Homo sapiens: one gene and its partners. The protein of the gene in region 1 interacts with the protein of each later gene in a pairwise test. Each region holds a gene or a part of one and is shown on either strand. Other genes may lie near its edges.

The links.
Region 2: the proteins of HUNK (region 1) and ALAD interact in a two-hybrid assay, tested with the Homo sapiens proteins (one large-scale study listed by BioGRID and IntAct).
Region 3: the proteins of HUNK (region 1) and LRSAM1 interact in a two-hybrid assay, tested with the Homo sapiens proteins (one large-scale study listed by BioGRID and IntAct).
Region 4: the proteins of HUNK (region 1) and ZNF292 interact in a two-hybrid assay, tested with the Homo sapiens proteins (one large-scale study listed by BioGRID and IntAct).
Region 5: the proteins of HUNK (region 1) and ZNF343 interact in a two-hybrid assay, tested with the Homo sapiens proteins (one large-scale study listed by BioGRID and IntAct).
Region 6: the proteins of HUNK (region 1) and AARS1 interact in a two-hybrid assay, tested with the Homo sapiens proteins (one large-scale study listed by BioGRID and IntAct).
Region 7: the proteins of HUNK (region 1) and ASPA interact in a two-hybrid assay, tested with the Homo sapiens proteins (one large-scale study listed by BioGRID and IntAct).

The regions. Positions count from the first base shown.
Region 1 is NC_000021.9:32,001,350-32,005,305, forward strand, and holds the end of HUNK (hormonally up-regulated neu tumor-associated kinase), read left to right. Parts: 3' UTR 1-2,715; downstream 2,716-3,956.
Region 2 is NC_000009.12:113,384,516-113,388,663, forward strand, and holds the end of ALAD (delta-aminolevulinic acid dehydratase), read right to left. Parts: intron 3,847-4,148; coding exon 3,785-3,846; 3' UTR 1,797-3,784; downstream 1-1,796.
Region 3 is NC_000009.12:127,500,010-127,503,509, forward strand, and holds the end of LRSAM1 (E3 ubiquitin-protein ligase LRSAM1), read left to right. Parts: intron 1-1,000; coding exon 1,001-1,134; intron 1,135-2,764; coding exon 2,765-2,890; 3' UTR 2,891-3,490; downstream 3,491-3,500.
Region 4 is NC_000006.12:87,259,422-87,264,332, forward strand, and holds part of ZNF292 (zinc finger protein 292), read left to right. Parts: coding exon 1-2,380; 3' UTR 2,381-4,911. UniProt on the Homo sapiens protein: May be involved in transcriptional regulation.
Region 5 is NC_000020.11:2,491,089-2,495,999, forward strand, and holds part of ZNF343 (zinc finger protein 343), read right to left. Parts: intron 4,437-4,911; exon of another isoform or gene 4,327-4,436; intron 2,957-4,326; 5' UTR 2,808-2,956; coding exon 2,690-2,807; exon of another isoform or gene 2,663-2,689; coding exon of another isoform or gene 2,605-2,662; intron 2,490-2,604; coding exon 2,431-2,489; intron 1,738-2,430; coding exon 1,611-1,737; intron 997-1,610; coding exon of another isoform or gene 944-996; exon of another isoform or gene 761-943; intron 1-760. UniProt on the Homo sapiens protein: May be involved in transcriptional regulation.
Region 6 is NC_000016.10:70,268,500-70,273,410, reverse strand, and holds part of AARS1 (alanine--tRNA ligase, cytoplasmic), read left to right. Parts: intron 1-1,438; coding exon 1,439-1,630; intron 1,631-3,070; coding exon 3,071-3,215; intron 3,216-3,647; coding exon 3,648-3,793; intron 3,794-4,911. UniProt on the Homo sapiens protein: Catalyzes the attachment of alanine to tRNA(Ala) in a two-step reaction: alanine is first activated by ATP to form Ala-AMP and then transferred to the acceptor end of tRNA(Ala). Also edits incorrectly charged tRNA(Ala) via its editing domain.
Region 7 is NC_000017.11:3,478,091-3,483,001, forward strand, and holds part of ASPA (aspartoacylase), read left to right. Parts: intron 1-3,512; coding exon 3,513-3,708; intron 3,709-4,911.

The DNA of each region.
Region 1 (3,956 bases):
AAGTGTACCTTTTCTAAAGACGGTTTCCAGCTGCAACGGCTCCACTTTGCAGGCTTGCAGGGTGTATACCTGCGCATTGGGAACTTGCTGGAACCCCTGATGCATTTTCCTTGAGAGCAGGGGTACTTCCGCCTTGCCGTTAGCTTGTGGAGAACGTGCTTCTTATTCCTGGCAGGCTTCAAGAACAGCTGCACATGTGCCGCTAACTGACCGCGTTGCCATTGGCGACCTGGACTCTGAACTCAGGTTTATTCTAAACCCAGTGAGAGGTGAGGGGGAGTGATGAAAGGGGATCAGCTGTATTTGTGTGTGTGTGTGTGTGTGAGCACCTGACAAATCTATGAAACCGAGTGAAAGGAGAAATGTTAGATTCTTTATTATTTTATTATATTTATATGGAAAGCTCGACTCTCCCTTTGGTAAGTCCGAAGCATGTTGTCTGTTCGACCGTGACTGTCTTCCTCAGTCTGTGCCTGTGATTCCAGTCACCCTGTAGTTACTGACAGAAATTGACTGGACTGTCATTGTGTGAAGTCTAGGAGGAAATGTCCATTTTAATTGTATGATTTGGTCATAAGTAAGGACTATATTTATGTCACCATTATTAGATATATGTACTTTTGTAATGACTGTGAAATACACTTTTCCCTCACTACGACTGCTTCTTTATTTGCTGATAAATCTTAAAACAACTAAGTACGTTGCAAATAATAGTACAGGTACCATCTTTTATGTGAAGTTCTTTTTCTTTTTTTGAGACAGGGTCTTGCTCTGTCACCCAGGCTGGAGTGCAGTGGCACAATCACAGTTCACTGCAGCCTCAACCTCTCCAGATTCAAGTGATCCTCCCATCTCAGCCTCCCAAGTAGCTGGGACTACAGTTGTGCACCACAATGCCTAGCTAATTTTTTTTGTATTTTGTAGAAATGGGGTTTCGCCATGTTGCTCAGGCTGATCTCAAACTCCTGGGCTCCAACGATCTGCCCACCTTGGCCTCCCAAAGTGCTGAGATTACAGGCGTGAGCCACTGTGCCTGGCCTTATGTAAAGCTCTTGACCTAGCATCTGACTGGAAACAAGCGGGAATTGCATTGGGGGGCATTTTCTGGGCCAGTTTCCCTGCCTTATTTTACCTGCAATAGGTGTGCCTACAAAAGTCTTTCTGACATACACACTGCAGGTGGCAGTTCAAGAAGAATCAACCTTTTTCATTTGGGGATATTAGGATCTTCCTTGGAGACTCTGAAAATGGCACACAAAGAATGGCAGTTATGAACGTGACTTCTAGATTTTGTCCTTGTAGGAGGCCTTGGTCATGGATAGGGGAAGAGGGATGATGGGATGGAATGGGAGGGTGGGATCTAGATGACCTCTTGAAATTGTCCCAGTTACTGCTTCCTTCATAACTGTTCACAAAACGTTTTTCATATATACCACCTTGTTTCCCCTGGGAAGTGAGGGGACGAAGCCTTAGAGGGTGACATAGCTAGAAAGTGGAGAAGCTCACTGTTCACTGTGCAAAGCCCCAGTAGTCGGATTCCGGGGAAAAGAACAAGTATCTAGTTTTGATGACAATGTTTTCTTGTAAGAATCCCAACACTTTAGAATAGAAAAGGACCTAAGATTCTCTGGCTCAGCCCCAGCCTTTCTGAAGAAGGGAAAACTAGGGACCCAGATGGTTTAAGGACACCCCAGAGTCCCCAGATGAGCTGGCATTTGAGCTGGTCTGGAGCAGAGTTTCTCCCTCAAAGAACACAGAGAAATCAGAGAGTGGCTGCCATGGTCAGAGGGGGATGTCAACAACAGATCAAGCCGTCATCACAACAGGTATTTCTGAAGTTCCTGCAGGGACTAGGTCTTGCATTTTTAAGTCCTTTTCAAAACTGTGCAGCTTCCTGAACCTTATGCTGTTTGTCCCATCCACTCTTGAAGCTGGGGAAAGACAGCTTTCTTTGGGAACTCTGTCTTTCTCAGTTGACTTCCCAAGTAAGCAGCAAACCCCTGGATAGCCTTGTTATCTACTTTAGGTATTAAGAGGCTATTGGGTTTTACTAGATTAAATCAATAAAACATTTCCTATAGAGCCATATCATACACTGAAGCAAATTCAGAAAGAATGCAAAACTGCTATCTTTTGGGGGAGTCTGGAAGCCTGTTGGTTAGTGTATTTATTTTCTTTGTGGGGTCTTCTGTGAGCTACAGGCACAGTAAGAATAATTCAGAGCGGTACTGGGAGTTGGTTCAATTTCATGTCATCACTTTTCAATGAAGGGAGTGCATTTCCTGAGTAGTAAATGAGTATATTATTTGTGGCAGCTTTTCTGTTAAGGGAGCTTTCCAGACATCTGGTTGCAAAGACAAATAGGATATATATTTGTACTTCTTCTCTGTGGACATGTTTTTGTGACACACAGTTATCTCTAGGAGTTGACGTCTGTGGGCACTAAGGGACTGAGGTTGGGGGAGAAAGCTGAGGAGGCTTTGGAAGAGAAGGTGAGGAGCATTTCAGGATTTGCAGTCCCCCTCCACATGTATCCACATCTGAGCTGGTGGTGTTCCAATAATGAGGCATTTGGGGCAACCAATTTTGGAAGGATAGAATAGCTTTATGTGGAGCAAACTTGAGGATCAATTGGAGTTGAGTGGTTTAAAACTTAAAGATGGCACAGGAAGCTGTATCATTTACAGGTGAAAAAAATAAATGGGTCTGACTTCAGGGCCTCAGCTCTTTGTATTTCCTACTTGGAAGATGGGCTATTAGCAATTTTGAAAGCAAAGGCTTTGGTTTACATTTAAACTCTATAATTTTTTTTAAAAATGTGTTCTTTCTAGTCTTGTTACCATAGCCAGCTGGAAAGGGCAAATTGCAAGCCTATATTGGGAACAAGTCTTCTTGCCGAAAGTAGGGCAGTGAAGTTCTTGGCAGATCTGAGATGAGAATGCCTTCCCCTGACTCCTTCATCAGTGTTCAGTGCTCACCTCCTCTGGCAACCAGTATGCTAGAAGATTAGGCTTTGCTATGATCACAAATTAATTCCAAATCTCTGTGACTTGCCCAATAAAGGTTTATTTCTTAAAATATTTTTATGAGGCTGGGCTGACCACAAAACGGCTGTCTTCCATATGGTGACTCAGGGATCCAGGCTACATCCAACTTGTGGCTGTGTCCCCTCAAAATGAAACGTCTTTGGCTGCTCCAGCACAGGAAGGCACGGCTGGAGAGTTTTCCACCAGCCCTTAAACATTCTATGAGGGGACTCATCACTTCTCCCACAGCCCATTGACTGGAACTGGTCACACTGCCTTGTCTGTGAGCAAGAGGCTGGGAAATACAGGAGCATAGGGCTACTTGGGATGCAGCTAATGTTTCTCCCATCTTAGGGAAGGTACAGCTGCCTGCCATTTATTTGTTCTTTGTTTTTGTTTTTGCTTTTGTTTTGAGATGGAGTCTCCCTCTGTCACCCAGGCTGGAATGCAGTGGCGCAATCTCGGTTCACTGCAACCTCCACCTCCTGGGTTCAAGCGATTCTTGTGCCTCAGCCTCCTGAGTAGCTGAGACTATAGGCACATGCCACCATGCCCAGCTAATGTTTGTATTTTTAGTAGAGACGAGGGTTTCACCGTGTTGGCCAGGCCGGTCTTGGACTCCTGACCTCAAGTGATATGCCCGCCTTGGACTCCCAAAGTTCCAGGATTACAGGCATGAGCCACCGTGCCTGGCCGAGATGCCTACCATTTAAAGGTACCCCAAAACTGGACTAGCCTTTTCCCATTGTCACACAATTATAGCACCTCTTAGTAAAGAGTTACTTTTTTAAAATAAAAGAATTAGCATTGGTAAATGTTAATATTTAAGGAGAGTGTTTTGGGCTGAATTCTTTCCTCCACAAATTCATATGTTGAAACCCTCAGCCCCAGTACCTCAGAATGTGACTACTTAGAGATAGGGCATTTAAA
Region 2 (4,148 bases), on another chromosome or scaffold:
TGTGATCCCAAGAACCTCCATTAGGTAAAAATGGCCATTTGCCTTACTATCCATTCTCTCCATCTTCCTTAGTAACTGAACTCCCGAGTTTTAGTTGAGCATATGGCTGGCCCACTAGACTATTTCCAGCCTCCCTTACAACTGGGCATGACCATGTGACTAATTTGAGACAAGGGTGTGTAGACAGAAATGATGTGTGCAACTTTTGGGTCATGACTTTATAAAGAAGGGTCATGCCCTCCATTTGCTCTTCTCTTCCTGCTGGCTGGAAAGAGGACCTGATGATGGGAACTGGCCCAGCCATTTTTTTGTTTTGTTTTGGTTTTGAGATAGGGTCTCACGCTGTTTCCCATGCTAGAGTGCAGGGGCGCAATCACCACTCACTGCATCCTTGACCTCCTGGGCTCGCTCCTGCCTCAGCCTCCTGAGTAACTGGGACTACAGGCATGCACGACCACACCCAGATAATTCTGTATTTTTTGTACAGACGTGGTTTCCTCATGTTGCCTAAGCTAGTCTCAAACTCCTGGACTTGAGTGATCCACCCATCTCAGCCTCCCAAAGTGTTGGGATTACAGGTGTGAGCCACTGTGCCCAGCACCAGCCATCTTTGTTCATGAGATGGAGGCCAAGATGTGTTGATGATGACAGAACAAGGCAAGAGCTGAGACCCCTCACAACATATTGCTGACATATCAGCCCTGGATTGCTTAGAAGTAAATTTTCATCTCAAGCTATCATTATTTTGGCTTTTGTTATATCCACTGAACCTGAATCCTGATTAATACAGAGTGACTGGAGAATGACTTTTTTTTTTTTTTTTTTTTGAGACAGAGTCTGACTCTCTGTTGCCCAGGATGGGGTGCAGTGGCATGATCTCGGCTCACTGCAACCTCTGCGTCCTGTGTTCTAGTGATTCCTCTGCCTCAGCCTCCCAAGCAGGTGGGACTACAGGCGCCTGCCACCATGCCCGGCTAATTTTTTGTAGTTTTAGTCTAGATGGGGTTTTGCCACGTTGGCCAGGCTGGTCTTGAACTCCTGACCTCAAGTGATCCGCCTGCCTTGGTCTCCCAAAGTGCTGGGATTACAGGTGTGAGCCACCACGCCCAGCTCCAAGAGTGACTTTAGATTGGGTGTTGGGTCAGGTTTCTCAGAGGAAGGGATGCTTTGAGCTGAGATCTTAACAAGAGAGACAGCCATATAGATTTAGGGGAAAAGCATTCCAAGCCAAGGAGGCCACTGGTGCAAAAGCTCAGTCCAAGACAGCGTTCTGTGTAATGAGGCCTACCTGGTCAATTGTGGCGCCATCTCCCATCCCATTGTTTACAGTGACTGAGCCAAGAGTGGACCATGTGGCCTGAACAGGCCCAATCAGAGACCTCCAGAGATTTGCTATGTGAGTGATGGGACAGGAAGGCTCTTTCTCTGGGATTACAAATCTTAACGACTATTTAAGCCTAGAATTATTGAGGATCATGTTGCTGGCAAGTGGCAAAAACCCACCTGAGTATAAAGCTGGGGCAAACACAGACGAGAGTTAGAAAGGGACAGAGACCTCCATGGGGTTTGACCCTGGGCCCAACCACACCTGTCCTTATCTCAATCCAGTTATGAAAACCAATCATGTCCTTCTTTGCTATTGAACTGGATTTCCATCACTTGCAACCAAGTAGGTGCCTGGTCTCCTTGGTCTCCCCGTATAACTGGGGCTAATTGCAGATGGTCCCCGAACTGTGATCATTCAATTCACAATTTTTGACTTTACAACAGTATGAAACAAGACATTCAGTAGAAACTGTACTTCAAATATTGAATTTTTATTCAAAATTCTTTACAACTTTATTACAATATAGATTTTGTGTTGGATAGTTTTGCCCACTGTAGGCTAATGTAAGTGTTCTGAGCATGTTTAAGGCAGGCTAGGCTAAGCTATGATGTTTGGTAGGTTAGGTATATTAAATACATTTTTGACTTATGATCATATTTTCAACTTATGATCATATTTTCAACTTATGATGGGTTTATCAGGATGCAAACCCATCACATAAATGGAGGGGTGTCTATAAAACATTGTTAGACCTATAATTTTGCTGTTGATTATTGGGAGGTGGTATGGCACAGTGGTTAGGGGCAGAGGCCTTGGAGTTGGACTACATGGGTTCAAATCCCAGCTTGGCTGTTTTCTGTGCAGTTCTAATCCAGTTCTGCCACAAACTTGTTGAGTGGCCTTAGGTGAGTCACATAAGCACTCTAGATATAGCTTCCTTATTGCAAAATGTCTCAAGCTAAGTTTAGTATTCTCCCTCCACCCCGACCCTGCTTCTGTTCCTCTTCCAGGCTGCCCCATCTCAGTAAATGGCCCATCAGCCACCCAGAAGGTCAAGCCAGATTCATCCTTCACATCGAATCTACCTTCTAAACACATCCACAATCCATTCCCCTTTCTCCATCCCCACTGTCCCCGCTCCAGTCCATGCCATCAAGACTTTTCATTTGCACTTTGCCGCAGAGCTGTTAAAATACTTTTACAAACTACAAATTTGATTGAGTCACTCTGAAAAGGTGAATGTGGCCCTTGACCTCTGCATGGTTTGGTCCTGGTCTGTCTCTCTCCACTCAGTTCAGGCCATCCTCTCAGTGCTCCAGACAAGCTAGCCTTGCATTCCTCCAGCTAGAAGGAGCCCCAGGGCCTTTGCACAACTCCTCCCTCTCCCTGGAATGCTCTTCCCCAATTGTCTTAGCTTGATGGCTCACCCTTCAGGTCTAGGCTCAAATGTCAGTCCTTCAGGGAAGTATTTTCTGATCCTTCAAAGAGGTCAGGTCCTGGTGACCTCCTTCAGAGCACCTGTCACCACATCACTGGTGCATGTCTGCCTCCTTCCCAACTACTGTTTCAAGAGAGGCCCCTTCCCTGTTGTTGTCTCAGACCCCTTCTTTCCTTCAAAGCACTTATCACAATTTGTAACTGCTTTATTTCTTTGTTTTCTTCTTAGCTGTCTCCCCAATTCTCTTTGTATAATTTCTATGAAGAGATAAGCTGAGGTCTGTCCTGCTGTATTCCCAGGACCCAGCACTGAACCTAGGAACAGAGCAGAGATTCTCAAAAAGTATCTCCTGAATAAAAAGTGTTTGTGGTGGTGGCACCTCTAGCAGTCAGGAACTCCCTCTTTGCCTCTGAGTTTTGATCCTCAGGCAGTATTTATGCTGGTTAATGAGTAATTCTTCTCTGGGTTTATGGTTCAGAGTAGAATAGGAGACCTCAGGCAGCCTGGCAACCTCTGGCCTCGTGGGAAATGCCTTCCAGTGGAATTGCGGCAAATTTCAACTCTAACCCAGGGATATCGATCTAGGCCTCATTCCCACACCCAGCTCTGCTGCCAGAAGCGTTCCAAGGCTTCTCAGGCCCCAAGATCCCACTGCTCTCTTCTTCCCCTAATGCTCCAAGACCCTCTCCCAGCCAGGCCCCAAAGGCTGTGCCCCCGACTCCAGGTTGCTTTCAAGCTGAAGCCACACCAGAGGAAAGAGCTGAGGGTGGCAAAGGTGGGCCTCACGGCTGACCCAGGGGAGGGGCGGGGAAGCTTGGGAGAGCTCATAGGATGCAGCTGCGAGTTACAAGAGTTAGCATGCTGGCAAAACCACCCAGGGCTGCTGGGCCCCGCTAGCATGTGAGCAGGAAGAGGGCATGAGGGCACAGTTCTAAAAGCAGCATTTACTTTGGTTTTCACTTGTCTGAGGCCCCGGGAACGTTTTAAAGTTCTAGTTCTTGGGCCTGGCACTGTCTCCATCATTCCTCCTTCAGCCACTGCAGCAGCTGCGGTGTGTAGTAGGTGATGATGATGTCAGCACCTGTGTTGGGAGAGATGCAGAAAGTTGCTGGGGGGACGCTGATCAGCTCTGAGCACACCTTCTGCGATGGGAAGGCCAGGCGGGGAAGAAGGCTACCATGAAGAAGCACAGCCTGTGGGCACACCACATGAGACGGAGCCCAGCTTTGGGAAACTCTATTTCTTGGGCAAGTCATTTCCTCTTTTGGGGCCTCAGTTTACCAAAGAATAAAATGCACAGTGAAGGAAATAGGTAAGAGGCAAGTTCCTTCCCATGCTGGTGTGCAATTCTAACAAAATGAGTCCCCTTTATGGAGTGATATT
Region 3 (3,500 bases), on another chromosome or scaffold:
GGAAGGGAACGAGGGATAGAGTCAAGGAAGTGGGTGGCTCACGTTGCATGATAGAAAAAGAGACTTAGCAGCCGGGCACGTTGGCTCACGCCTGTAATCCCAGCGCTCTGGGAGGCTGAGGTGGGCAGATCACCTGAAGTCAAAAGCTTGAGACCAGCCTGGCCAACATGGTGAAACCCCACCTCTACTAAAGATACAAAAATTAGCCTGTCGTGATAGTGGGCACCTGTAATCCCAGCTACTCGGGAGGCTGAGGAAGGAGAATTGCTTGAACCTGGGAGGCAGAGGTTGCAGTGAGCCGAGATCGCGCCACTGAACTCCAGCCTGGGTGACAGAGCGAGACTGTCTCAAAAAAAAAAAAAAAAAGAGACTTAGCATTTTGTAAGGGCTGCTTCTGATGTCTTAGCAGGGGATGCTGACTCCAGGGCAGAGCAGCCAGCATGCTGGGGACTCTGTGGGGCTGGGGGCAGGGGAACAGCCTTGCGGGGGGCCTCTCATTCTGCTCCCCTGGGTCACCTGATGGGCAGCAGCCCATCCTGTCTCCTGGGCAACCAGGTGGAGAAGCCAAGAGCTGGCCCTTCACTGAGAGCTCCTGCCCCAGGGATCTGCAGCTGCATCACCAGATGGCCACATGGCCCTGGGTTGAGTGACTCCCCGTCTCTGAGCCTCAAATGTCTCATCTCTGAAAGTGCCAAGCCCTACTTGCAGGGTGGCTATGAAGCGTCCCGGGGACATTAGAGATCAGAGGACCCACTTAACAAGCGCTGCGGCCATCCCTGCAGAGAGAGACTTCACTCCCATTCTGCAGATGGGAAATGAGGCTCAGAGAAGAGAAGAAGAGAGTGTGTGGCAAGGAGAGCACTTCCCTCAGATCTGAGAGCAGAGGCTCCCCCACCCTCCAGCTCACTCACCATGGGGATGGGCAGGGCCACAATGAGCCCCCAGGGGTTAGGGTCAGCGGAGATGACCCTGGCTCAGTCTGTCTGTCTGGTCCCCACAGAGCTGAAACCACCAATGGGTGAGGTCGTCACCCCTACGGCCCCCCAGGAGCCTCCTGAGTCTGTGAGGCCATCCGCTCCCCCTGCAGAGCTGGAGGTGCAGGCCTCAGAGTGTGTCGTGTGCCTGGAACGGGAGGTAAGTCCGGGGCCCTCCCCACCCGCCTGCCCTGCCTGTGGCCACCCTCCTCAAATTCTGCAGGTACAGGGTTGTCTCTGAACGTGTTTTCTCCAGTTCTCTAAGTAGACTGTGCTCATCTAGAAAGAAGGCAGGAAATAAAGATGACCCCTGGTCCCATGACCCAAATATGAGCTGCGCTCACATCATTTTCCGGACCTTTTTCTTTTTGTTCCTACTTAATAAATACATTAGGAAAAAATTTCCCAAATCATGAAATATCAACAACATGATTTACCCTGCAGAGGCTTTAGAAAATCATCTTTTGGCCAGGCATGGTGGCTCACGCCTGTAATCCCAGCACTTTTGGAGGCCAAGGCAGGTGGATCACCTGAGGTCAGGAGTTTGAGGCCAGCCTGGCCAACATGGTAAAACTCCATCTCTACTAAAAATACAAAAATCAGCCAGGCGTGGTGGTGGGCGCCTGTAAGCCCAGATACTTGGGAGGCTGAGGCAGGAGAATCGCTTGAACCCGGGAGGCAGAGATTGCAGTGAGCCAAGATCCCACCACTGCACTCCAGCCTGGCAGACAGATCGAGATTCCATCTCAAAAAAAAGAAAAAATCATCTTTTAAAAATTCATTAACACTTACTCTAAAAATTACACAGAGCAGTGAATGAAATACAAATCCTCCTTTGCCTCCACTGAGGGATCCTACTTAGAAAAGCAGCCATGTTTGCAGTTTGATGATTCCAGGGTCTCCCGTTGACCTGACTCATGCCATGATATGGATGGACCTATTGGTTCCAAATATAATCCCTGTTCTGGGGCCCTTGGCATTCCAGACAGCTTTGAGCGGAGCTTGGATCAGTTCCTGAAAGCAGGAGATGCTGAGGCAAAGTGTGGTCCTGAGTCAGTGGCTGCTGCTCCGGGTTGGGATTGTTTGTAGACTGAGGAGTTCAGGGCCTGGGCAAGTGCATCAACAAGAAAGAAGCCTGAACACCCTGCGTGCCCTCCGGCAGGGGCCGGCGGAATAGGCCTCCGTCGCCTGTCCAGAGCGCAGGAATATAATCCCCAGTTTTATTTAAGAAAGAATCAGTTGGGGCATTTATATGGGTATTTATATTTTTTACAAACTATAGAGAAATAGACAGCAAACTGCTAACAGAAGGCCTAGGTTACCTGTTTCGGCCGTGCCTGTTCTGTTTCTGTGGTGGTCAAATGCCCGAAGGCCCCACTATCAGGCGTTTATGGTAAAGATGCTAAAGAATAATGAAGGGGGCCGGCATGGTGGCTCACGCCTGTAATCCCAGCACTTTGGGAGGCCGAGGCGGGCAGATCACTTGGGGTCAGGAGTTCGAGACTAGCCTGACCAACATGGTGAAACCCCATCTCTACTAAAAATACAAAAAATTTAGCCAGGTATGGTGGTGCACGCCTGTAGTCCCAGCTACTTGGGAGGCTGAGGCAGGAGAATCACTTAAACCCGGGAGGCTGAGGTTGCAGTGAGCTGAGATCCCACCACTGCACTCCAGCCTGGGCAACAGAGTGAGACTCTGTCTCAAAAAAAAAAAAAAAAAAAAAAAAGACGGGCCTGGGACTCCTGGAACCCGGTAGGGCCAGCCACATGCTCCCGCTCTCCCTCCCCAGGCCCAGATGATCTTCCTCAACTGTGGCCACGTCTGCTGCTGCCAGCAGTGCTGCCAGCCACTGCGCACCTGCCCGCTGTGCCGCCAGGACATCGCCCAGCGCCTCCGCATCTACCACAGCAGCTGAGTGCTGCCCGCCCACCTGGGCCTGGTCCTAGCCCTGCCTCGGCCACTGTGAGCCCCGGGCTCCTGCTCAGCCTTGTGCCAGCCAGACTCGTATGAGGCTCCCCCCTGCCCTGGGCCCCTTCCCCACTGCCCAGGAGCCCCCATCCTAAGCTCCAAGCATGTCTGGGCCAGGCAGAGGTGCTCCTCATCCATGACACCACCAGTCTGAATGGTCCTGGGGGCTGGGGCTGGAGAGGCCGCTGCACCACCACCCGAGCCTGGGAGCCAGCGTCCCAGCCTAATCACGGATCTGCTGCCTCCCAGCTGTCTTGACTGAAGGCCACCGCCCCTGCAGGAGCTTGGGTCCTCATCTGGGGGCCATGCACAGGCCCGTCCCACCCTGCATGTGGGAAGGGAGCAGGAGGGCCTGGCTGGGTGAGGGGAGGCCTTCCTGGGAAGGCGTGTGGTGCAGGCCTGTGCTCACAGTGGCACCAGCAACCCTGGGTCTCCCTCTCTGCTGCTCCCCAGAACCCCGGGGCCCTCCTGCTCTCCACAACTGTCCCTCCTTACCCCATGTAGCTCGATCCGAAGCAGGAGTGTCAATAAACCTGTCTTCAGTGCGCTTCTGGCCT
Region 4 (4,911 bases), on another chromosome or scaffold:
AGAAATGATTCTTGAAATTAAGAAGAATCAATTGAAATTTGCTCCCTTTAAATGTGTAGTACCTACATGTACAAAAACATTTACAAGAAATTCTAACCTCCGGGCACACTGTCAGTTGGTGCATCATTTTACAACTGAAGAAATGGTAAAGTTAAAAATTAAAAGGCCTTATGGAAGAAAATCTCAGAGTGAAAATGTGCCGGCCTCACGAAGTACACAAGTGAAAAAACAGCTAGCTATGACAGAGGAAAATAAAAAGGAATCTCAGCCTGCTTTAGAATTGAGAGCAGAGACCCAAAATACCCACAGTAATGTAGCAGTGATCCCAGAAAAACAACTTGTAGAAAAAAAAAGTCCTGACAAAACAGAAAGTTCTTTACAAGTGATTACAGTTACTTCAGAACAATGTAATACAAATGCACTCACAAACACACAAACCAAAGGACGGAAGATTAGGAGGCATAAAAAAGAAAAGGAGGAGAAAAAACGAAAGAAGCCAGTTTCCCAATCCCTTGAGTTTCCAACAAGATACAGTCCTTACAGACCTTATCGATGTGTTCACCAGGGATGCTTTGCTGCCTTTACGATACAGCAAAACTTGATTCTCCATTACCAGGCTGTACACAAATCAGATCTACCTGCATTTTCAGCAGAGGTCGAAGAGGAAAGTGAAGCTGGTAAAGAAAGTGAAGAAACTGAAACTAAACAAACTTTGAAAGAATTTCGATGTCAGGTAAGTGACTGTTCTCGAATTTTCCAAGCAATTACTGGCCTAATACAACACTACATGAAACTTCATGAAATGACTCCTGAAGAAATTGAAAGTATGACTGCTTCAGTGGATGTTGGGAAGTTTCCATGTGACCAGTTAGAGTGTAAATCTTCATTTACTACATATTTGAACTATGTTGTTCATCTAGAGGCAGACCACGGGATTGGACTAAGGGCAAGTAAAACAGAAGAAGATGGTGTATACAAATGTGATTGTGAAGGCTGTGACCGTATATATGCAACCCGGTCGAATCTCCTCCGACACATTTTTAATAAGCATAATGACAAACATAAGGCTCATTTGATTCGTCCAAGAAGATTAACACCAGGCCAGGAAAATATGTCAAGCAAGGCAAACCAAGAAAAATCAAAGTCTAAACATCGGGGGACCAAGCACAGCAGATGTGGAAAGGAAGGAATAAAAATGCCCAAGACCAAACGAAAGAAAAAAAATAATTTAGAAAACAAGAATGCAAAGATTGTGCAGATTGAAGAAAATAAGCCTTATTCTCTGAAACGTGGGAAGCATGTATATTCTATAAAGGCTAGAAATGATGCCCTGTCTGAGTGTACAAGCAGATTTGTAACCCAGTATCCATGTATGATAAAGGGATGTACTTCAGTTGTTACAAGTGAAAGCAATATAATTAGACATTATAAGTGCCATAAATTATCTAAGGCATTTACATCACAACACCGAAATCTTCTTATTGTATTCAAACGGTGTTGCAACTCACAAGTAAAGGAAACGTCTGAGCAAGAAGGTGCTAAGAATGATGTGAAAGATTCTGACACGTGTGTATCAGAGAGCAATGATAATTCAAGAACAACAGCTACAGTTTCACAAAAGGAAGTTGAAAAAAATGAAAAAGATGAAATGGATGAACTAACAGAATTGTTTATTACAAAATTAATAAATGAAGATAGCACAAGTGTAGAGACCCAAGCTAATACTTCTTCAAATGTAAGTAATGATTTTCAGGAAGATAACCTCTGCCAGTCAGAAAGACAAAAAGCAAGTAATTTGAAGAGAGTTAATAAGGAAAAAAATGTCTCACAAAATAAAAAAAGGAAAGTTGAAAAAGCTGAACCAGCATCAGCAGCTGAGTTAAGTAGCGTGCGTAAAGAAGAAGAAACTGCTGTTGCCATTCAAACCATTGAGGAGCATCCTGCATCTTTTGACTGGAGCTCTTTTAAGCCAATGGGATTTGAAGTATCATTTCTGAAGTTTCTTGAGGAGTCTGCAGTGAAGCAGAAGAAAAATACTGACAAAGACCATCCGAATACTGGAAACAAAAAAGGATCCCATTCAAATTCAAGAAAAAATATTGATAAGACTGCTGTGACTAGTGGAAATCATGTATGTCCTTGTAAAGAAAGCGAAACGTTTGTACAGTTTGCCAATCCATCACAGCTTCAGTGCAGTGATAATGTAAAAATTGTTTTAGACAAGAATCTTAAAGATTGCACTGAGCTTGTCTTAAAGCAACTTCAGGAAATGAAACCTACCGTCAGTCTGAAAAAACTTGAAGTACATTCAAATGATCCAGATATGTCTGTTATGAAAGATATCAGTATAGGTAAAGCCACAGGCAGAGGTCAGTACTGATAATTAATGTAGTATAAATACATCATTTACCATTTTATTTTAAATAGGAAGCCATCAAGCATGCTAGAATTGTGAAACTTTCATTATATTTTTTTGTTGTTGACATGAATTAACCTGGCCAAAAACAAAAAAGAAAAAAAAAACATGACATTTGTCATGTAAAACTTTTTTTTATCCCTATGGGACTTGAGGAACAGAATCAGTACTTCAGTTATTGTAAATAGTGAGCTAAACCTCAAATTTCTATCACCCAGTTGCCCTTTTCATGAACTAAACAATTATCTGTGTGATTGGTATGTTTCACCAGGTCACTGCTCATGTATAACAGTACTCTTTATTTGTAGATACCTTTTTTGTATATATTTATTATTGTAAATCATGTGCTGCCACCAGCAGTCTGTAAGTCTAAACTATTAAATGACACATTTATATTTGGAATTTTAATTTTTAACTAAGCGATCAAGTTTTTTAAATTGTTCTTTTATTGTTTTAAATTAAGAACTTTTTGAACTAAAACCAGAAACTCTGCCATAGTTCATTGATTTTTACATGAAACATTTATTTACAAGATGATATCAAGATTACTTTTCACAAAATAGGCACATTATATCAACACTTTGCTCTGCTTTGTAAATTTGCCATCCAGGATTTTGGGGTGGTATTCATGTGAAATTAAAGCAGATTCTCTAGCAGTTTCCTATAGCTACAGTTTTTTTTTTTCATTGCTTCTAATTGGATATAGTTACTATGAGTCCATGAAATACAATGGAAATGTGAATAAAGAATTTACTACATTGAAGATTTTAAACATTTGGTATTAAAAAAAAATCCTTTGTGAATGTGATAGAAAACTAGTAGTGTGGAGCAGTGTAAATATTTGAGGTGGTGATTTGTGAAGTAGCCCAGTATTGCCTTAAATAAAATCACATTTCATTTCTTGTTTTATACATGTGATCTTATAAAGATTTTTTGTTTTGTTTTGTTTTCCATTTTCTGAGATTTATAGATTGGTGTATAGCTTTAAACTGTATAAAGTTTTGTGGAAAGATTTTTTTAAACATTTTTATAAATCTTAAAATTGATATCATCAAAGTGAGCCCATCTTGTGTTTATAAAATACAAGAGTCCTTAACATTTATAATTACATAGATAAAACACTTTCTATAAGGAAGTTGGATGTTTTGATTTTACTGTTTATAGATGTTAGATTGTACAGATTTGTCTGTATTTCTCACCATATCTAATGATACTTTTTTCATTAGATTGGTCTTCAAGAACAGTATTAGTTATAATTATTTTGGTTATTCAGTATATAGTTAGCTCTTACAGTTTAGCTTTATTCACCATATTTATACTGTGGATTCACAGCGAGAGGTAGAGGTTATTCCAGGAGAGTTGATGACCTTCATTTAAAGTCCAACTAAAATCAGTAGTAGAAACATAAGAAAACATCTTTGCAATATTTACTTTTGTTTCTGTTTGCCGTAAATAGTAACATTGTTTTTTTTTATTTTGTGTTTGTTATAAAACAGTTGCATTCACAATATTATTGGCCTGAGATATTGATGATATTGTGATGGTATGAAAATGTGTACATTCCCTGTGCAACATCAGATTTGCAGGAAAAATGAAGCACTTACTGAAATCGCTGGTACTCTGAATAAATAAGCATGGTCAAGGAGTGAACTATTTTCTTTTGGAAATTTCTTTTTAATTTTTATTATTAAAGTATTTTATTTTTAGGGCCTTTTGGGTTTTATTGAATAGTTCATTTCACCTGTTTAAGACTTACTACCAATAAGCATAAAACCTGACACGTTAAAATCCCTGCCCTTTGGTGAGCCCACTGTTATTTATTAAAATAAAAGTTATTTTATGGGTGATTAATACATGGGTTTTCTTTTTCCTAAATTAACAATAATTTAAATAACTGAGTAATTTTAATATTAAATTTTTGTTAACAACTGAATGTTTCCATACAGTTTTCTTAGAAATTGACCTAGCTCTTAAAGGTGGGCACTTGGCAAAACTGCCCTATATAGCACAGTAGCAAGTAGGTTTATTTCTGATCATTGTAACTATGAGCCACTGTTAAGTGAAAATGCCAATGTATTGGGGCTTTTCTTTTGCTCATTAGCTTAAGAAAATTTATAACTAGACATTTCTAATTGTTTTACATGTCATGGGGAAGAGTTTGCCAACATTTAATGAAATTTTTATATTCCAGGTAATGTATACTAAAGGTAATTATGAGAGTGGGCTTTTTAGCATGAAACAAAAAAAATCAAACTATGGTAAAAAGACATGAATTTATAGAATAGCATGTTGGTAAATTTTGATACGGAATGTAATGTCTAAGTATTAAAAAATCATAAAATATATTTTTTTCATGGTATACTTTTCCCCAGCCTATTGTCTTGAGATATCTTCTACAGCCTAAATTTGCTAAAGTTTCATCACTAAAAAGTAGGAGTTTTTCCTCTTCTGAACCCGCAAAGTTTGCATATTACAGGTCAGAATTGTATTATTCA
Region 5 (4,911 bases), on another chromosome or scaffold:
GGTTTGTGTCTCCAAAAATGTGATTCTTCTCTACATGTTTTATCTAGAAACATAGGAATATCTAGAACAGTACTATCCAGTATAGCAGCCACTGGCCATGTGCTCATTGAGCACTTGAAACATGGCTAATCTGAACTAAGATGTGCTCTAAGTGTAAAATACAACCAGGTTTCAAAGACAGTACAAAAAAATAAGTAAAATACCTAATTAATAAGTTTTATGTTAATTTCATGTTAAAATGATATTTTAATATATTGGATTAAATAATATATATAGTCTTAAAGTTGATTTCACCTGTAGTTATACTTGTAAAAATGTGGTTACTAGGAAATTTAAACTTACCTATGTGGCTCACATTATATTTCTACTAGACAGCACTGATCTAGAACAAGGAGTGGAAAATGACTACCCACAAGCTAAATCCAGTCCTCTGTTTTTGTATCACCTACAAGCTAAGAATGGTTTTTACATTTTTAAATGGCTAGAAAAAAGTAAAAAGAGTAGTAATATTTCATGATACATAAACATTATATTAAATTCAAATTTCAGTGTCTATAAAGAAAGTTTTATTGGAACATATCAATGCTCATCCGTTCACATACTGTTTATGGCTGCAACTCAATGGCAAGTTAAGGGTTGTTACAGAGGGCTTATCACCTGTAAAAACAGTTATTGTTTGGCCCTTTACAGAAAAAGTTGGCCAACCCCTGATCTAGAGTTATGTTGCAATTGATAACATTTATCAACCCAGATTTAAATATTTTTTTATTTTTTTTTATTTTTTCAGACTGAGTTTCACTCTGTCACCAGGCTGGAGTGCAACGGCACAATCTCGGCTCACTGCAACCTCTGACTCCCTGGTTCAAGTGATTCTCCTGCCTCAGGCTCCCAAGTAGCTGAGATTACAGGCACATGCCACCATGCTCAGCTAATTTTTGTATTTTTAGTAGAGATGGGATTTCACTATGTTGGCCAGGATGGTCTCGATCTCCTGACCTCGTTTAGGTTTGTAAACAAATGAAAAAGAAAAAAACATAGTTTATGAAACCCCCAAACCACAATAAACTTGACTCTTAATTTTAACTTATGTCACAGAGCTGCATCTCTCCCCCTTGCAAACCATGCCCCCAGCCTTGCTTGCCTCCTTGCAGCTTCATATACTGGGCAGGTACATCCCTTCATTAAGGTCTTCGTGTCAATAATTCCCTTCACCTGAAATGCTCTTACACTAGATACCTACAGTTCTAACCTCCTCACCACATTATGTCTTTAGACAAATATTACTTCTTCACTGATTTCAAATACCCAGTTTTAAACTTCAGCCAGCCACCCTATCACACCCAATACCCCTTTATCCTGCCTTATTTCATTATTTTTTACTATGTTGCACTTATCACCTTTTAACATACCATATTATAATATCCCTGTATATGAGGCTTTTTGTTTGTTGTCTGTCTCCTTACACTAGAAAGTAAGCCCCATGGAGGCAGGGATTACGATTTTGTTTACTAATGTGTTGTAAGTATCTAGAACATTTTTTTGTGGTACATATTAGGTGATCAGTAAATCTCTACTGAATTAATGAAGGAAAGGAAAGAACACAGCCTTACCCAATGAGAGAAGATTCCTGTAATTCTCCAGCATCACTTCTTTGTATAGATTCCTCTGCTCTGGACTCAGTCTCTTCCATTCTGCTTCTGTGAAGATCACAGTCACATCCCTGAATGTAACTGGTACCTACAAACAACCAGTAAATTAATGTATAGCAAGCCACCATCAATCTTCCCTGTGTGTGGAGCACAGCTGGTGACCCTGGAGAGCCTGGATATGCAAGTTGATGTAATTCGTCAGAATATATGGTTCTCCATATGAAGTTCTTCTGAGCACTACTGTCTGCCTGGCTTTCTGTTAAAACCTGTGAGGAGCATAACTGAGCACAGAACACATTCTAGGCCCTTGACATATATGATTTCACCGGAGAAATGATTTGTGAATTAATTTGTAAACCTCAGGCTGTGTTTAAGACAGTGACTTTGAGGATTCATAATGAAGGAATTCAGAGATGAAACAGCAGAGAATGGGCTGCAGAAGGAACAAAAGCATCATGGACTTGGGGCTTGTGCTGGGCAGTAGGGAGTGGTAAAGATTTAGAGGAGAGAATGGAAGAAAACTTGGATTACAGAGAAAAATGGGAGTGAACAGATGGGGTCTGGAATGAGCATTTTTTAAAAGCTCAGGTTACTAAATGGGATCTGTAAAATCCCTGTCTTTGCTATGTGCTTTGACAACTTTTTTCAAGAAAGCCTAATGCTTCACTCATCTACCCAGATGTTGACCGCCTTTTCCTTTCCCAAGAAAGAGAATATATGTCTATTCTCTGGAAAATGAGCCAGCACTTCAGGAAAAAAAAAAAATGTAACCCCAACTCACCACTATTTGGGCCTTTCCCTCCTTTTTCTGGGGGCAGTCAGTATCATTAGAAGGCAAGCCTAGGGAAAGAAAAAGAAGCTATGAGAAACCAGACCCCCCCACCCCCCACCCCCCACCATGACGCTCCCTGAGCAGCTCTTCTGAGCCTTAGGATGAAGGAAGTAGTCACTTAACTCAGAGGTGACCTCTGAAGCATTTTCAGGTGAACCTGGAGCCTTGGCTTCCTCTTCATCCCTCCGGCTCCCTCAACAATTCTCACCTTTCGCTTTATGATTTTGGGTCAATTTCTTCATAGTCTCTACATTTTCCCCATTCTTTGGAAGCAAAATCTCTTCCCAGTATTGATCTCCCAGTGCTGAAGGATAAGGCAACATCATGGCGCCAGAGTCAGCCCAGTGTGTGCCTTGAAATTCTGCCAGAGGTCCAGGTAGATGTTATTTCATCTCAAGATGGAGTTCTGCTGCCTGTGGTGACTTCTTCCAACCTTAATTATAAAAAGCCCAGCTTGTTTCCCTGCAGCCAGGACCTGTGGGATGAAGAAGCAATTTGCTATTGCTGGGGCTTTTATTGTGGGCCCTAGGCCTATGCCTCTTCAACAGGGATCCTGTCCTCTCACACCCTCCTCATTCAACAAACACGGAGTCTCCATCTACATGGGATCCCTGGATTTTCTACCTTCATTCACTCTACCTTCATTTCTAGGCCCTCCTGCTTGTGTTCTGCCACTCTCCCTTAGCTCTCAAACTTTACTTCTTCTGCCTCTGCACCTCAGATTCAAACTCTATGTTTTGGATCAGTCTCTGCTACTACCTGAAGCCTGAGTCAGAGAGAAGACAGAATATAGCATAATGCCTGTGGAGAAAGAGCCTCTGACTGTTTCCTGTAGACCAACTGGGGCGTGCAGAACTCAGCTTCTGATTCCCCTGCCCCAACCCAAGGTTCCATCTATATTCAGTTCCTTGTGTCTTGGATGGGCACAGTGGTTCACACCTGTAATCTCAGTACTTTGGGAGGCCACGGCAAGCTAATCACTTAAGCTCAGGAGCTCAAGACCAGTCTGGGCAACATAGCGAAATGCCGTCTCTACAAAAAATACAAAAATCAGCTGGGCATGGTGGTGTGCGCCTGTAGTCCCAGCTACTCAGCAGGCTGAGGTGGGAGGATCACCTGACCTCGGGAAGTCGAGGCTGCAGTGAGCTGAGATCATGCCATTGCACTCTAGCCTGGACGGCAGGAGTAAGACCCTGTCTCAAGAAAAAAAAAAAAAATCCCTATGTCCCTGTATTGTGAGGAGTTTAGGAGATCAAAACTCAGTCCTTCTTAGTTAAGGGAGAGCTCCAGTTCTCACAATTACTCTGAAGAGATAACCTCCTAGCTTCCATTGCTATGCATGTCTACCACATGACCTTACCACAGATGTGCATTTGTGTATCCTGATGGGCCCAAGTCAAAGTCCTACACTGATGTGGTCCCAAAGAAGGCAGGTGGTATTAGGAGCTATGCCACCTTCAAAAGCTCCTCAGACGCTGTCCAGGATTTCAGCCCAAATGGCTACAGGCCTATTGTTGCCTAGTACCCTTCTGAGACTAGCTGGGGTCTCTAAGCAGCTCTTGTAATTCATCCCTCAACACCATAGGTAGAGATGACCACTCCCTCTTCTGTCCAACCTGGCCATCATACCATATTGCAATTTCTCTATTTACGTGACTGTCTTTACTAAACTGTGAAGCTTCTTGTAAGATGAAATGCTTCTCAGTCTTTTTGCTAATATAATTCTAGTGATTAGAATAAAAGAGGCCTTTGTGGTAGATTTTATCATCGTTCCCAATTATTTGTTGCCCTATAAAAGGATGGTACTTCCCTGTCCCAGACATCAGGCTTGACCTTGTAACTTGCCTTGGAAAATGAATGTGAGTGAAAGCGACGATGCCATTTCTAAGCATTGCATAATTCCACCATTTCTTTTGTTCTGAGAACAGCATGTCCGAAGAGGGACTGTGGTTCTACTGTAAAAAGTCATGGTACAAAGCTAAAGCCAACCTATAGTACCTGCAGTATAACGTAGCTGAAGCTGACAAAGCCTTTCTCCTAGTAACACTAGTATCTGTAGCTAACAGTTATAAAGCAAGATCTGTACTAAGTGCAGACTTTTTTTTTTCTTTTTTCTTTTTTTTTTTTTTGAGACAGAGTCTCACCCTGTTGCCCAGGCTGGAGTGCAGTGGTGCAATCTTGGCTCACCGCAACCTCTGCCTCCCAGGTTCAAGTGATTCTTTTGCCTCAGCCTCCCAAGTACCTGGGATTACAGGCACCTGCCACCACATCCAGCTAATTGTTTGAATTTTTAGTAGAGATGGGGTTTCACCATGTTGGCCAGGCTGGTCTCGAACTCCTGACTTTGTGATCCGTCTGCCTCGGCCTCCCAACGCGCTGGGATTACAGGCGTGAGCCACCATGCCCGGCTACTAAATGCAGTATTCCAAC
Region 6 (4,911 bases), on another chromosome or scaffold:
AAAGTATAATCACATAGTATAAAAGCTAAGACAGTAGGTGAGCTATATGTGTTCTGTGCTGTGAACTTGGTCGAATTTGTGAAGTGCTGCATCAAGGAGAATCTGAACATGGGGTGTGTGCCCTCTGTAGACAGCTGGGCTGTCCATGATGTGTTTGCCTCATTTTCTTGTTCCTTTTACTTAATTCTTTCATCCTTTAGTGCATAGCTTTTTACTATACTTGGAAACAGGGCTGCTTCTCTTTTTTTAATTACTTTTACTCTAGATATATTATTCCAACCCAACTTCCCCTTTTACTTGATCTAAAACTCCTATTCGGTTGACTCTGTAGTCTAAGTGTAGTTGGAATTTTGGGTAGTGACACCTGTAAAAATTAAATATTAATCTTGACGCTGGTTTTTAAAATCCTCTTTTACCTTGACTTCATGTACTGTATATCTACACTTTAAAAGTGTAGCTTTTAAAAGATAAGCAAGCACAATCTTTTGTGTGTGTGTGTGTGTGTGTGTGTGTGTGTGTGTCACCCAGGCTGGAGTGCAGTGGCATGATCACAGCTCACTGCAGCCTCAACTTCCTGGGCTCAAGTGATCCTCTCCCGAGTAGCTGGGACTACAGGTATGCATCACCCCCCCAGCTAATTTTTTTTTGTATTTTTTAGAGAGTCGGGGTTTCGCAATGTTGCCCAGGCTGGTCTCGAACTCCTGAGCTCAAGCAATGCGCGTGGCCAGCGTTTTCATTATTATGTGTTCCTTTCTAGGCCTTACTCATGTCCTTGTGTATTTTCATTGAGTTTCGAGCATATCATGTGTATATTTTGTACTGTCTTCTATTGTAGGCACTCTTGAGAAGAGTCATGTGCTGTTTCTTTAGCGGGTTTTTTTTTTTTTTTTTTTTTTTTTTTTTTGAGATGGAGTTTTGCTCTCGTTGCCCAGGCTGGAGTGCAATGGCGCGATCCCGGCTCATCGCAGCCTCTGCCTCCTGGGTTCTAGTGATTCTCCTGCCTCAGCCTCCCGAGTAGCTGGGATTACAGGCATGCGCCACCACACCCAGCTAATTTTTTGTATTTTTAGTAGAGACAAGGTTTCTCCATGTTGATGAGGCTGGTCTCAAACTCCCAACCTCAGGTGATCCGCCCGCCTCGGCCTCCCAAAATGCTGGGATTACAGGCATGAGCCACCACGCCCAGCTTCTTTAGCAGGTTTAATGTGCAGGCTTAGCATTAGTACTTGCTGAAGGTTGGAACTTCTTCATTAAAAATTCTAAGAATTTTTTTTTTTTCTTTTTTGAGACAGAGTCTCGCTCTGTTGTCTAGGCTGGAGTGCAGTAACATGAGCCACTGTGCCCGGCCAATCCTAAGAATTTCTTTTGCGGTGGTTGCAAGTCTGGGCAGAACTCTTGTCAGGGGCTGTAACTGGACTTATCTTTACTCCTTTGTCAGGCTGGATGACACCAAAATCCTCCCAGGCAACATGAAGGATAACTTCTGGGAGATGGGTGACACGGGCCCCTGTGGTCCTTGCAGTGAGATCCACTACGACCGGATTGGTGGTCGGGACGCCGCACATCTTGTCAACCAGGACGACCCTAATGTGCTGGAGATCTGGAACCTTGTGTTCATCCAGTATAACAGGTAGCCTTGGGTTCCTACTCCATTCCTTTCCTTGAGCTGAGCAGGGGAGGAGGAACTCGGAGCTGTGTAGCTCTCTTCTCAGCTAAAAGCTCATTTCTTTATTTCTCAGATTACCTGTCTGATCTCTGGAACAAGGATGGGCCTATTCTTTCATGAACTAAACCTTATCGCACATAATAGCTTCTTGCGAGCTATTCCTATAATGTCATGCTTGCTGTACTTCGGGCTGCTGTTTTTTTTTTTTGTTTTTTTGAGACAGAGTTTTCCTCTTGTTACCCAGGCTGGAGTGCAATGGTGTGATCTTGGCTTACTGCAACATCTGTGCCCTGGGTTCAAGCGATTCTCCTGCCTCAGCCTTCCGAGTAGCTGGGATTACAGGCATGTGCCACCACGCCCGGCTAATTTTGTATTTTTAGTGGAGACGGGGTTTCTCCATGTTGGTCAGGCTGGTCTCGAACTCCCAACCTCAGGTGATCCGCCCGCCTCAGCCTCCCAAAGTGCTGGGATTATAGGTGTGAGCCACCGTGCCAGAACTGGACTGCTGTTTTAAAGCCTATTTCCTTGAAGCTTGCCTCAGTTTTGTTTTTGTTTTTGTTTTTGTTTTTGGAGATGGAGTCTTGCTCTGTCACCCAGGCTGGAGTGCAGTGGCAAGATCTCAGCCCACTGCAACCTTTGCCTGCTGGGTTCAAGCGATTCTCCTGCCTCAGCCTGCTGAGTTCTCCTGCCTCAGCCTCCTGAGTAGCTAGGGTTACAGGTGCATGCCACCATGCCAGGCTAATTTTTAAAATATTTTTGGCAGGGATGGGGTTTCATCATGTTGGCCAGGCTGGTCTCGAACTCCTGACCTCAAGTGATTCCCCCGCCTCGGCCTCCCAAAATGCTGGTATTACAGGCGTGAGCCACCATGCCCAGTCTTTTTCTTTTCTTTTTTTTTTTTTTTTTTGAGATGGAGTTTTGCTCTTGTTGCCCAGGCTGTAGTGCAATGGTGAAATCTCAGCTCACCACAACCTCCGCCTCCTGGGTTCAAGCGATTCTCCTGCTTCAGCCTCCCGAGTAGCTGGGATTACAGGCATGTGCCACCATGCTCGGCTAATTTTGTATTTTTAGTAGAGATGGGGTTTCTTCATGTTGAGCAGGCTGGTCTCGAGCTCCTGACCTCAGATGGTCCACCACCTCGGCCTCCCAAAGTGCTGGGATTACAGGCATGAGCCACTGCGCCTGGCCTTTCCTCACTCTTAAATGAACCCCAGAGTTCATTTAAGAATGAACTCTTCCTTTCTCCTTCCTTTCTCCCTCCACTTCCCTCTTCCCACCAAACCGGGCAAATGGCAGATGGTCACAGCCTGCAAACTGTTCTGTAAATGAATTTTAACCAGCAGGGACTGGAGAGGTGGCAGCTTGAGTCTCTGCTTCAACCTCCTCTTCTTCTGGATCATACAGGGAAGCTGATGGCATTCTGAAACCTCTTCCCAAGAAAAGCATTGACACAGGGATGGGCCTGGAACGACTGGTATCTGTGCTGCAGAATAAGATGTCCAACTATGACACTGACCTTTTTGTCCCTTACTTTGAAGCCATTCAGAAGGTACTGGTGCTATTGCAAACATTGTAAACTTCTGTGGAGTTTTCCAGGCTGTACTCTTAACAGTGCTGTCAAAGAAAAAATGACCATATGCTTTGCCAGCCAAGGGTACCCATTTCCATCTGCCTACTTCATTGTTAATAATGTGAGGCTCCACAAATTGGTGTTCTAAATGTCTTAAGAACCTAATTAAATAGCTGACTACAAAAAAAAAATAATAATGTGAGGCTCTAGACCTGAGACAGTATAATTTTTGAGTGTAGGGGCTGGCTGGAGTCTCTCTACTTCCCCAATGTCACGTTCTTGGGGTTATAGGATCTGGCAAGACCGGCATCCTTTCTGCTAATGCTCCTCAATCCTCCAGGAACCTCCTTGGGCAAGGTAGCGCCAGAAAGTCTGCTTCCTAAAGGGCTGCCTCCTGATTCTTATCTATAGGGCACAGGTGCCCGACCATACACTGGGAAAGTTGGTGCTGAGGATGCCGATGGGATTGACATGGCCTACCGGGTGCTGGCTGACCACGCTCGGACCATCACTGTGGCACTGGCTGATGGTGGCCGGCCTGACAACACAGGGCGTGGGTAAGTATGCTGCACACTGGGTGGTGTTTGGAGCGGCACCACGTGTGCTATGTGTGACTCTTTATGAAACTTTTCTTTGTGTGTGAGATTGAGTGTTGCTCTGTTGCCCAGGCTGGAGTACAATGGCGTGATCTTGCCTCACTGCAACCTCTGCCTGCTGGGTTCAAGTGATTCTGCCTCAGCCTCCCACGTAGCTGGGATTATAGGTGCACACCACCACGCCTGGCTAATTTTTGTACTTTTAGTAGAGACGGTTGTTTTTTTTTTTTTTTTTTTTTTTTTTTTTTTTTTTTTTCTGAGACAGAATTTTGCTTTTGTTGCCCGGGCTAGAGTGCAATGGCCCGATCTTGGCTCACCGCAACCTCCACCTCCTGAGTTCAAGCAATTCTTTTCCCTCAGCCTCCCGAATAGATGGGATTACAGGCATGAGCCACCATGCCTAGTTTTGTATTTTTAGTAAAGATGGGGTTCCTTCCATGTTGGTCAGGCTGGTCTCAAACTCCCAACCTCAGGTGATCCGCCCGCCTCGGCCTCCCACAGTGCTGGGATTACAGGCGTGAGCCACCGTGCCCGGCCAGAGGTGGGGTTTTGCCATGTTGGCCAGGCTGGTCTCGAACTCCTGACCTCAGATGATCCACCTGCTACGACCTCCCAAAGTGATGGGATTACAGGTGTGAGCCACCATGCCCGGCCTCTTTATGAAACTTAAAGCCATCTTTCGTTATTGTTTCCTTGTCTTGGGCAGGTGGAAGAATCCCCCACCCCTTTTTTAAGGGATGAAGGGAGTTTCAGCTAGTGTCACAGAGTTGCCACTATATTAAATCTCTGCTGCTGAGTACAGATGATAAGGATTGTATTCAAAGTTGCCTGATAGGAGATTGGCAGGGGCAGGGTGAGGGTAGGTATTGACCAGCCCTGGGAATCTCTCTTACTGACAGGCAGGACCTGGGATCACAGGCATCAAGTACACATCTGGTCTGTCCATCTTTCCTCCCTCTATGGGTAACTGAATGTGAAAGGAAAACAAACCAGCGTTTACCCTAGGGAAGCCTTGACGGGTATTTGTGGGTATGTTACTGAGTCTTGTGCTAAAATTAATGACCTTGGGGAATGCGAAA
Region 7 (4,911 bases), on another chromosome or scaffold:
AGGAGAATGGCGTGAACCTGGGAGGCGGAGCTTGCAGTGAGCAGAGATGGTGCCACTGCACTCCAGCCTGGGTGACAGAGCGAGACTCCGTCTCAAAAAAAAAAATATATATATATATAAGATATGCACAGGCACAACTAGCCACTGTTCTATGTGCTTGTTTTCTGATCAACTCTAATTTGAGTTAGATCACTCCTTAGGTTTAGTCTCAACACAGATCAAAACATGGACACTACTCTTAATAGAAACATGCCTCACTTTATGGAATAGATGTTTTTCAGGGCAATTATACTGCAGTCATCCTGTTTGTATCAAATCATATTTTTACTAGCATAAATTTTAATTTGAGAAATGCTTTATCTTCATGACTGAGGTTATGTCAACACAATTCATGCTTATCTATTGACCTAAGAGAGCTGTTAACTAACTTCTATATTACAAGTAAGAATTTGTTGAAGGATAACTTTTAGTCGGCATATTAACTTCCCAAATAGGTGTGAAATGGACTGGGGTGAGTTTATGAGCACCCAGTAGTATGCATTTCAGTGAGCACAGTCTTTTCACTTAAATTCACTTTCTGCTCCTTACTGTTAACACTGTTCAGAGACTAGACTGTTCCCAGCGTGGTTGAAAAATTATAAAATAGATAAACTAATTAACTTCTCCCATCCTGCCTCTCCCAAATTTATTCATTTTCCTATATTCCTCATCTCAGTGGTGGCATCATTATCCACCAAGTCCCCTGTGAAAATCACCCTAGAACCTTCCCAGTCCTTTGTCTCCCACGTCTAGTGGGTCACTAAGTCCTCCCAATTATTCCTTGCAAGTACTTCACAAATCCAGCCTTCCTCTCCAGTTTTACTACCTTAGTTGATTTCCTCTGTGGACAGTTAGAATAGCCTCCTAAAGGGTCTCTCTGCATCCAGACTTGCTCTGACCCTTCCTGTCATCTATTTTCCATCTGATACCTCTAGGAATCATCCTAATATGCAAATCTTATCATGTCTCTCCCCTGCTGAAAATTCTTTAAAAATGTATCCAGAATAGATTTAATCAACTTAGTATGGCTAATGCCCTTCAGAATCTCACTCTTCCCTATTCTTCATCCCTTGGGACTCTTCCAATGGGAGCTCAACTGCAGGCATGAGAACTCAAAAGTGTCCATCTTTTTGAAAACTTCCAGACTTGACTCTGAGCAACTGGGTAGATACTAGCACCATTTACTCAAATGCGGAAGAATGATATAGAACCAAAATTGTCGGGCGCGACCTCAGGGGGTTATTTCATGAATTAACTTTTAAAATGTATAAATATCCATTAGGCTTGGTTTGCATACAATAGGAACCTAAGAATAGTGGTTTAAACAAATAAGGGTTTCTTGTTCACAAATAATAAGTCCAGAAGTAGGCTGTCCAGGGCTGATGGAGCGGCCACATGATATCATCAATGCCACAGGCTCCTTCTACCTTCCCACAGCACTGTCTCAACATGGCCCCTTCCACCTTCCCACTGCACCATCTCAACGTGGCCCTTTCCACCTTCCCCCTGCACCGACTCGACGTGGTCCCTTCTACCTTCCCAGTGCACTATCTCAAGATGCCGGCTTTGTCCTCATGGTTTTTGCTTCAAAGTCACAAAATAACTACTCCACCTTCCTGATCTCATTCCAGGCAGGAATTAGCCCATTGTACACAGTAGGTCCCTTGAAGATACTAGCAAAAATAACCAAGGAATACAAATAGATGGAATTTTAGGAAAATGTGGTTGAACGGTTTAATGAGGAAAAGTAAATGAAAAACATTATTATATCTAGAAAAAAAATGTATCTTAACCATTGTGGGAAGTGGGGAGAGGGTAGAGGCCCATTTGAGAATGGAAGAAAAACTACTGGCCCTTGTGCCAGAAAAAAAATACATATATCTGTACCTGCAAACTTGTGGCCTTTTTGGAGAGGTTAGACTCTGAAAACTCTGTCCCTGGACCTCTAGTGGTTCCTGGACCTCAATTAAGAATCTCTAATTAGGCCAGGTGTGGCTGCTCATACTTGTAATTCCAGCACTTTGGGAGGCCAAGGCAGGAGGATTGCCTGAGGCCAAGACTTCTGTAACCACCCAGCAAGTTCTCCTCATCCGCTGCCCAGACAGAGCTGATTTATCAAGACAAGGGAACTGCAATAAAGAGTTTAATTCACACAGAGCCGGCTGTACAGAAGGCCAGAGTTTTATTATTACTCAAATCAGTCTCCCCGAAAATTCAGACACTGGAATTTTTAAGGATAATTTGGTGGGTAGGGGGCCAGTGAGTCGGGAGTGCTGATTGATCAGATTGAAGGTAAAATCATAGGGAGTTGGAGCTGTCCTCTTGCGCTGAATCAGTTCCTACGTGGGGACCACGAGACCAGATAAGCCAGTTTATCCATCTGGGTGGTGCCAGCTGATCTGTCAACTCAGGGTTTACAAAATATCTCAAGCCCTGATCTTAGGTTTTACAATAGTGATGTTATCCCCAGGAGCAATTTCAGGAGGTTCAGAATCTTGCGGCCCTCCAGCTGCATGACTCCTAAACCATAATTTCTCATCTTGTGGCTAATTTGTTAGTCCTGCAAAGGCAGTCTAGTCCCCAGGTAGGAAGGGGGCTTGTTTTGGGAAAGGGCTGTTATCATCTTTGTTTCAAAGTTAAGCTGTAAGTTCCTCCCAAAGTTAGTTCAGTTTACACCCAGGCATGAACAAGGATAGCTTGGAGATTAGAAGCAAGATGGAGTCAGGTTAGATCTCTTTCATTGTAATAATTGTCTCAGTTATAATTTTTGCAAAGGCAGTTTTAGTTCAAGACCAGCCTGGGCAACAGAGCAAGACTGTATCTCCACAAAAGATAAGAAGATTAGCTGGGCATGGTGGCACGCACCTGTAGTTTCAGCAGCTACTCAGGAGGCTGAGATGGGAAGATTGCTTGAGCCCAGGAGTTTGAGGGTACAGTGATCCATAATTGGGCCACTGCACTCCAGCCTGGGCAACAGAGCAGAATCCTGTCTCAAAAAATTAAAAATTAAAATGATCTCTAATTAGATTATGTGAGCCCCTAAGTGACTATATTTGTGCACTAGAATTAGCTAAAGTGGGGGAAAAAAAGATGCATTTGATGGTCTAGTCCCATAATAAATAACCCAGTGTACCATAACTACTAAGAAACTGTTCATTAAATTAATGGATATGTTGCGTTCAAGATTGAAATCAAATGATAAATTCTGTTTGATATGTCCTATTCATGACCAGCCACATAAATGCACGTATTACTTCGCAAGCATGCCAATGCAACATTAGTTATATGGAATCAAATGAAGAAAAAGAATGTAAGTTTTCATATATAAACATTTCAGGTAAGTTTTTACTTACCACACAGATTTTTCATATTAAAGATTTGGCGACTGGTTCTTTTTACACTGTGTTCTTATTATATGTTTATATTATCTCAGGCACAGATGTTGTTCATCTTTTTCTTTCTGCTTATAACAGCAAAAAAATGTCAGAAGATTTGCCATATGAAGTGAGAAGGGCTCAAGAAATAAATCATTTATTTGGTCCAAAAGACAGTGAAGATTCCTATGACATTATTTTTGACCTTCACAACACCACCTCTAACATGGGGTGCACTCTTATTCTTGAGGATTCCAGGAATAACTTTTTAATTCAGATGTTTCATTACATTAAGGTAATGTTAATGTTATTAATTTATAAGTTAGCAAAGGACTTGTACTTTTAAGTCAATTATGGATGTGAGACAATCAGAAAACAGTTATGAGGGAAGGTGCAAGAGAAATGGGGTTTATTCCATAGCCAGGCTTGGTGGTTGGGGGGAAAGGGTGCTACCAGAACACAGAGGCAGTGGTGAGAGGAAGGAGAAAAAGAGAGGAAATAAGTAAAATAATAAACACAATTAATAAAGTAATAAAACACTTGTGGATTCTTGTGTCTATAAAATTACACGTTTTATCCAGACAGCCACCAGATGGTGGGGTATTTGTTAAAACCAAGTAAAATTAATATTAAAAGTTTAAATGGTATGGTCAATTTGTTAAAACCAAGTAAAATTAATATTAAAACTTTAAATGGTATGGGATCTCAATTACAAGGTTTTAGGAAACTTAAGAAATAGTCCTTTAACGTAGACTAAAGCCCAGTGATAAAAAGATTGCCTCCCTTTAGTCCTGCCCTCGTCCCCATTTGATTTAGACACCCCAGAATACGTCTAATCTTTCAGTACTTCATAATCATTTTAAGGCTCAGAAATCTCAGAGAAAATTTGCTAGAAAATAGCAACCAACCAGAAACACACATAAGGAACTGTATGCTTATTTCTGTGTACTAGATAGCCTTCCTTCCTGAGAGCAAGGATGATTGAGAGGAAAGAGTGTGGCCTGTGCTCAGATCCTGACTTTCTCCTTCACTAACCTTAGACAAAACACACCATTCCCAAAACCTTGCCTCCTTCATTTTATAAAATTGGTGTCATAACAAACAACACTTACCCATAAGGGTACTCAAAGCCTTAAATGACATAAAGTATTTAAAACATTTAGCCTCATACCTGGCCTATAGTAAAGATTATTATTTTTGTTTCCCTTCAGTTTTGGACAGTAACTGGGTAGTGGTCCTGGTAGGAGATCATAATGTAGCGATTCTTTTTTTTTTTAATTTTTTTTAAATTTTATTACTATTATACTTTAAGTTTTAGGGTACATGTGCACCATGTGCAGGTTTGTTACATATGTATACATGTGCCATGTTGGTGTGCCGCACCCATTAACTCGTCATTTAGCATTAGGTATATCTCCTAATGCTATCCCTCCCCCCTCCCCCCACCCCAATTCTTCATTGCCTATTGAAGAGAGAGCGGAATGCTTTGGTTGCCAGA